Linked DNA regions of Homo sapiens. The protein of the gene in region 1 purifies or fractionates together with the protein of each later gene. This does not show direct contact. Each region holds a gene or a part of one and is shown on either strand. Other genes may lie near its edges.

The links. The genes of interacting proteins can lie anywhere in the genome.
Region 2: the proteins of RAB40C (region 1) and SH3RF1 purify together in Homo sapiens (affinity purification with mass spectrometry, with the first as the bait; one large-scale study listed by BioGRID). This does not show direct contact.

The regions. Positions count from the first base shown.
Region 1 is NC_000016.10:614,022-617,665, forward strand, and holds part of RAB40C (ras-related protein Rab-40C), read left to right. Parts: exon of another isoform or gene 1-2,243; intron 2,244-3,186; coding exon 3,187-3,247; intron 3,248-3,644. UniProt on the Homo sapiens protein: RAB40C small GTPase acts as substrate-recognition component of the ECS(RAB40C) E3 ubiquitin ligase complex which mediates the ubiquitination and subsequent proteasomal degradation of target proteins.
Region 2 is NC_000004.12:169,264,457-169,268,106, reverse strand, and holds part of SH3RF1 (E3 ubiquitin-protein ligase SH3RF1), read left to right. Parts: intron 1-3,650. UniProt on the Homo sapiens protein: Has E3 ubiquitin-protein ligase activity. In the absence of an external substrate, it can catalyze self-ubiquitination. Stimulates ubiquitination of potassium channel KCNJ1, enhancing it's dynamin-dependent and clathrin-independent endocytosis.

The sequences.
Region 1 (3,644 bases):
ACTGCCTAACTCTACCGCGTCCCGATGGTGAACTGCTAACTCTGCCGTATCCCGATGGTGAACTGCCGAACTCTACCGCATCCCGATGGTGAACTGCCAAACTCTACCGCATCCCGATGGTGAACTGCTAACTACCGCATCCCGATGGTGAACTGCCGAACTCTACCGCATCCCTATGGTGAACTGCTAACTCTGCCGCATCCCGATGGTGAACTGCCTAACTCTACCTCGTCCCGATGGTGAACTGCCTAACTCTACCACATCCCGATGGTGAACTGCTAACTCTGCCACATCCCGATGGTGAACTGCTAACTCTGCCGCATCCCGATGGTGAACTGCCAAACTTTACCTCGTCCCGATGGTGAACTGCCTAAACCTCGTCCCGATGGTGAACTGCCTAACTCTACCGCATCCCGATGGTGAACTGCCTAACTCTACCACATCCCGATGGTGAACTGCTAACTCTGCCGCATCCCGATGGTGAACTGCCAAACTTTACCTCGTCCCGATGGTGAACTGCCTAAACCTCGTCCCGATGGTGAACTGCCTAACTCTACCGCATCCCGATGGTGAACTGCCTAACTCTACCACATCCCGATGGTGAACTGCTAACTCTGCCGTATCCCGATGGTGAACTGCCAAACTTTACCTCGTCCCGATGGTGAACTGCCTAACTCTACCTCGTCCCAATGGTGAACTGCCTAACTCTACCACATCCTGATGGTGAACTGCTAACTCTGCCGCATCCCGACGGTGAACTGCCAAACTCTACCTCGTCCCGACGGTGAACTGCCAAACTCTACCTCGTCCCAGTGGTGAACTGCTAACTCAGCCGCATCCCGATGGTGAACTGCCAAACTTTACCTCGTCCCGATAGTGAACTGCCTAACTCTACCGCATCCTGATGAACTGCTTAATGGCGTTGTCCCTGGGTACACATTGGGTGCAGCTCCTGCAGTCATGGGCTGCTCACAGCCGTGGCCCTTTTGGCACAACCATTGTTCCTTCTTGTCTTGGAAACGAGGACCCGAGGGAGACCATCCGTCCATCCTAAAATTGGGACGTTTGGTTTTCTGTTGTTGAGTTGGAGTTATTTGTAGAGTCTAGAGATCAGTCTCTAGGAGACGTGTGATCTGCAGACATTTCCCTCCATCTCTGGGTTGCATTTTTCTGTCCATTGATGGTGTCCTTCGATGCATGAGAACAGCCTTTGATGTACATGTAGGGGTTGGTCAGGCAGAAGGACGGTGTGGGTGGAAGCGCTGATGCCTGAAGAAGGGCACCGTAGGCAGAGAGACCGCATGGCTGGCTTGCAGGGCTGGGCCCGCACGGAGAGACAGATGTGCACAGACACACACACAAGCCCACTGGGCAGGTGCACTCCGTGGGAGGGCGTCGCTTATGTTTAAAAAGTGCCCGTTTCCAAGCCCCTTGGAGAAAGTGTCATAAAAAGACAAAACGTGAATGGTGTTTCTAAGGTGGGGGAAGGGGCTGAGCCCTAAAGGTAGAAGCTTCTGGAAAGTTTCCAGAGGGCCCAGAGCCTGTTTAAGATGTCGTGCCTGCGTTAAGTGTCCAGAACTGTCTGCTCCTTTCAGTTTCTCTTGGACTGACCTTTTCCTATAAAACTGTAAGGAAATAAAAAGTAATGATGTGATGTGGGCCGGGCACGGTGGCTCACACCTGTAATCCCAGCACTTTGGGAGGCCAAGGCGGGCGAATCACCTGAGGTCAGGAATTTGTGACCAGCTTAGCCAACGTGGCAAAACCCCGTCTCTACTAAAATTATAAAAATTAGCCGGCTGTGGTGGTGGGCACCTGTAATCCCAGCTACTTGGGAGGCTGAGGCAGGAGAATCGCTTGAACCCGGGAGGTGGAGGTTGTAGTGACCCGAGATTGTGGCACTGCACTGCAGCCTGGGCGACAGAGTGAGACTCCATCTCAAAAAAGAAAAAAAGGCCGGGTGCAGTGGCTCACGCCTGTAATCCTAGCACTTTGGGAGGCTGAGGCGGGTGGATCATGAGGTCAGGAGATCGAGACCATCCTGGCTAACACGGTGAAACCCCACCTCTACTAAAAATACAAAAAATTATCCGGGCATGGTGGCGGGCGCCTGTAGTTCAGCTACTCAGCAGGCTGAGGCTAGATAATGGCGTGAACCCGGGAGACGGAGCTTGCAGTGAGCAGAGATCGCACCACTGCACTCCAGCCTGGGTGACTGAGCAAGACTCTGTCTCAAAAAAAAAAAAAAATACCAATGTGGCAGGCAGGCTGGTGGCTGTCTGAGGTCAGTCCAGAGTCCGGAGAAGCAGCATTTTATTTATTTATTTATTTATTTATTTATTTATTGAGTACTGTCACCCAGGCAGGAGTGCAGTGACATGATCTCGGCTCACTGCAACCTCCACCTCCCAGCTTCAAGTGATTCTCCTGCCTCAGCCTCCCGAGTAGCTGGGATTAAAGGTGCCCACCACCACACCTGGCTAATTTTTTGTATTTTTAGTAGAGACGGGGTTTCACTGTGTTGGTCAGGCTGCTCTCAAACTCCCGACCTCATGATCCGCCCGCCTCGGCCTCCCAAAGTGCTGGGATTACAGGCGTGAGCCACCGCGCCCGGCCAGAAGCAGCATTTTTAAACTTGTTTGGCCCTCCCTAACACCAACCTTGGCAGTTCCTGGGCTGCAGTAAGCCGAGACTTGGAAATACATTCGCCTTGGAGAATTCAACTTCAAAATGCATACGAAGTAGGTCAGGGTGGAAATAAAGGCACTGCCCTTTCTCCAGGCACGCTGGAGTCCACGCCCTGCCTTTGCCCAATGCCCTCTGAGGGAGAGGCCCTGTGCCTTGCACCCAGCGCGGGCCACAGGCGGAGGCCCCATTCCAGGCAAGCCGTGCCCATGGAGAGGCTGGCCTGCTAGGCTGTGGGGCCCGATGGCCTGACACTGTATGGACCACGCTCCTGCCCTGCCCTGCCCCGCCCTGCCCGTGGCCCGTGTGCAGAAGTGGGCAGGCCTGGGTTGCTGGGCCAGAGCCCCGAGATTTCCCCCTGCCCCACTGGCTGAGTGTGGGGGAGCTGCTTCTCCACTTCCGCGTGGGTCTTGGCCCTGGGAGGCCAGTGGCCGAGGCTGGTCTCGCGGGCGCTCGCTCCAGGAGTGGCGCGTCCCCTCAGCGCCCTGTGCTTCCTCGCAGGGATCGACTACAAGACCACCACCATCCTGCTGGACGGCCGGCGCGTGAAGCTGGAGCTCTGGTGAGTTGGGGCTGCGGCACTTCAGTTCCTGGGTGAGGACACAAATGCCGAAGGGAGAACAGAACCCTTAGAGAAACAGGAAGGCGTCCTGTTTGCATTTCACTTGGAAGAGCCACTTACACAGCCCCTGTTTAAACATAGAATGGATTTTACTCCAACAGGAAAAAGACAGTCTGGGACACTGTGTCCCTAGAGATCGCGGCTCCCCTCCTGCCCCGGAAAACCTGATTCCGTGGTGGCTGTGAGCCCCTTCCCTCCCCTTCTGTCGGCTTCACCTTAAAAAGCATTTCCCAGCGGGGTGTGGTGGCTCACGCCTGTCATCCCAGCACTTTGGGAGGCCGAGGCAGGAGGATCACCTGAGGTCAGGAGTCCAAGACAAGCCTGGCCAACATGGTGA
Region 2 (3,650 bases), on another chromosome or scaffold:
TCACACAAAATTTCTGTATTTATTAGAAATATATATAAATAATCTGTATTTATTAGAAATATAGGTATTTCTAATAAATATAAATTATGTTGCAGGTGATGGATTCCTGATAAAATGTGCTTTCTCATTTTTGCAAAAATAAAAAGTAGTCAAGAGCATCAGTAATTAAAACAACTTCATTTTTGTAAGAAGAAGGAATTCTAAATTATTGGCCAAACTGGTAAAATCTGCTTTTAAAGAACAATTAATCTAGATGAGAATATTTTTTTCAAATGTCTTCAGTAAGCACTCAAAAGTGATGTCTTTCATTTAATACAGGAACTGCCCATTGGGATAGCATTAGTTCCCATAATTCGCAGATGTGGATACCAGGCAGTTTTAACAGAATAGTTTTCCTACTACTTTCTCAGGCTCATCTTTTGTAAATGATAGGAAGTATTTAAGTATATAGACCATTTTAATCACTGGAAAACCTGATCAGAAAACAGTTTCATCATTAAGGCTGTCAGGTTTCTTTTGACATATTTATTTATTTAAAGATAGTGAGAACTCTGGGATAGGGAGGTTTTCTTTTCCTTATTTGGAGCCCACATGTTGTGAAACTGATCTGCTTACAGTGCTTTTCTTAGATTTCCTTTATTTTATGGAGTTTACTTATTTGGACTCGAATATTTTAATCCCAGAACCAGTGATCAAGTTGATAATTTCTGAGACACCTGATGTAGGTCTGTTTAGCTTAATAAAGGTGTAGATTTGCATCTTTGGAAAGGTTTTGTTTCCCTGTTAATTAGACTAGGGAAGGCATGGCTTCCTGGAATACTGTATCTTAGTTGTTGACACTGCCTTACCTGTTGTGAGGAATGCATTGAATGTTTGTTCACTGATAAAGAGGAATTTAAGGAGAGGCTCAAACACTCAACTTAATGTCTTTTGAATTTTAAGTTTTCTTGCTAACATGGAAATTGACTATGTAATTCTCATTTATCTGAACTGCTAAGCTCCCAAAATTGAACTTCATAGGTAAATTATTTGGAGATTTTGATCATGTTAGTATTATTTTTCTGGTTTATATGCTTTTCCTAATTTACTTCATGTTTCTTCTTTAGCATGAGAAAAATTACTTGCCAAGAAACTCAACTAAACTTGAGCCTTATAACTGGGATAAAATAGTTGAGGTGGATGGAACAGGAAATATGTCTGTTACTTTGCTGGGGGAGGATGGAGGACAAAAACAAACCTATTCAGTAGTCTGAGTTGATGCAATTGATGCAATACTTAGAAAAAGAACAGCCTTTTTTCTAGTTTAAAATAGTTTTTCGAGCCAGGTACTGTGGCACTCGCCTCTAGCCCCTAGCTACTTGCATCTTCAGTCCTAGCTACTCCAGAGGCTGGGGCCGGAGGATCACTTGAGCCCAGGAGTTCAAGTCTAGCCTAGACAACATAGCAAGACCCCTCCCCCTGCTACCCCTCCCCCATCCCCTGCCCCCCACCCCCCTTTTTTAAAAAAAAGCTTTCTCAGTAAGTTACTAGTACCTTTTGCTTTCAAATATTCAGAACAGTCAGGGCCATACATATAGTTCAAACACCTGAAAGGTCAATACATTTCTAGAAAAGACTCCTTTTAAGAGTGAGAATTCTGTAACATGAAGCCACATGGATATTGTAAGGCACTTCTTTGGACGCTTCCCTTAGGTGAGTGACTGTAATAAATCCCAAATGTGCATCCTCCTCCCTTAAGTGTTCTGACACAACCAAGTGGTGCAGTGAGCCTGTTTCCATATGTTGTGCAAAGCTGAAAGTGATAACGTGGAATGTTGCTTCAGTTTATTAGTTATGTTCTGTGTTTGGTTAGGCTGTGACCATGTGGCCTCCTCATGCGTTTAGCCAAAGTATATTGAATGTTATCAACAGATTTGAACATTTCCAATGTGTGACGCACATCTTGTTCCCAAAATTTTAGTGTTTCCTGCCTAATTTGAAGGAGAAAAGGAGAGTGTGGGATTGGAATCACCATGGGAATCCATCAGTTTTTTACCTCTAAGTAAAGAATTCCTGTTGGTTTTAGGCCAAAGTCAAGCAGTGGAATGAGCCATAGGGAGAGGGACACTGCTGATACCTGTCTATGGCCTAAGAAATGTAGCTGCAGAAGTTAAAATGCATATATATAAATTAGATAAGGAAAGCATGGTTTTTAAGTAGTTCCTATAGAATTTAGACCTAATAGTTTCTGCTTTTTATGCGCAGTTCCAATGATTTAAGGAATCATTAAGTAATGATATGTAAACATAAATATGCATAGATATTAACTTCTCTTTAATATTCTCTTAAGCTGGCCAGGTGTGGTGGCTCACGCCTATAATCCCAGCAGTTTGGGAGGCCGAGGAGGTGGGTGGATCACTTGAGGTCAAGAGTTCCAGACCACCATGGTCAACATGGTGAAACCCCGTCTTTACTAAAAATACAAAATTAGCCGGGTGTGGTGGCACGTGCCTATAACCCCAGCTACTCAGGAGGCCAAGGCTGGAGAATCGCTTGAACCTGGGAGGCAGAGTTTACAGTGAGCTGAGATCGCACCCTTGCACTCCAGTCTGGCCAAAAAGAGCGAAACTCCATCTCAAAAAAAAATTCTTTTAAGTTCTCTTAATATCTCTTAACATTAAGTTCTCTTAATATCTGTGCATGTTTCTGTTTAGATATTATTACTTAATGATTTCATGATGCCTCTACTTCACAGCAAATTTATTCATCCAAAAAATAGATCACATGAGACCCCCTGATTTATACTAATTTATACTTAGTTTATTCGTTGCTTTATTTAATAAATACTTCTTAAGCACTCATTAGGTGCCGGGCACTACACTAGCTGCTGGATAGGTAATGGTAGACAAACCATTCTTAGCTTTTGAATGTGTAGTCCATCTTGTGGGAGAGACACATTAGGTTTTGAATGTATAGTCCATCTTGTGGGAGAGACACATTAAGAAAATAATAACAATGCAGGCATGTAATTAAGTAAGTTCTAAGACACAAAGCTAGGGGAGAGGATAGAAGAAAGACCTGCATTTAGCGTGAGGGTGAATTGTGTGTGTGATCTTCAAAAGCTTCCTGAGGAAGAGGCATCTGAGCTGAGATCTTAAGGGTGAAATGATATTAATTAGGGAATGGGGGCTGGGCAGGGAAGGGGCAGAGGCGAAGAATATTTCAAAGGGGCTGACCTAAACAGGAAGGGATGTGCCTCCTAGGAAGAACTGACAGAAGGTAAGTGTGAACTAGGCAAGCCACAGGGATGGTGTAAGATGAGGCCTCAAATTTGATAATGTAGAAGGCATCAAGAACTGCCCCAAGGGCCACGTAGGGTGAAGGGTCAGATGGGTAGGATAGATAGGAAGTGCTCTGCATTTGGGATAAGAAAGAGGGACCATTGGGACTGAGACGATTAGCAGGGCTTCAGAACAGATACGGGATTGGAGCTTGTGTCAAAGAATGGAGAGATCGGGAAAGAAAGGTAGGGAATTCTAGATATGAGGGAACACACATGAAATTTATTTTCCCCTGTAAATGCTGTGTCTGCTTTCATTTCTCCATAGCACAGTCATACCTCCTTTCTCCCTCTTTCCCTGTTGCTGACTGTTAGGGGCTGAATTATGTCC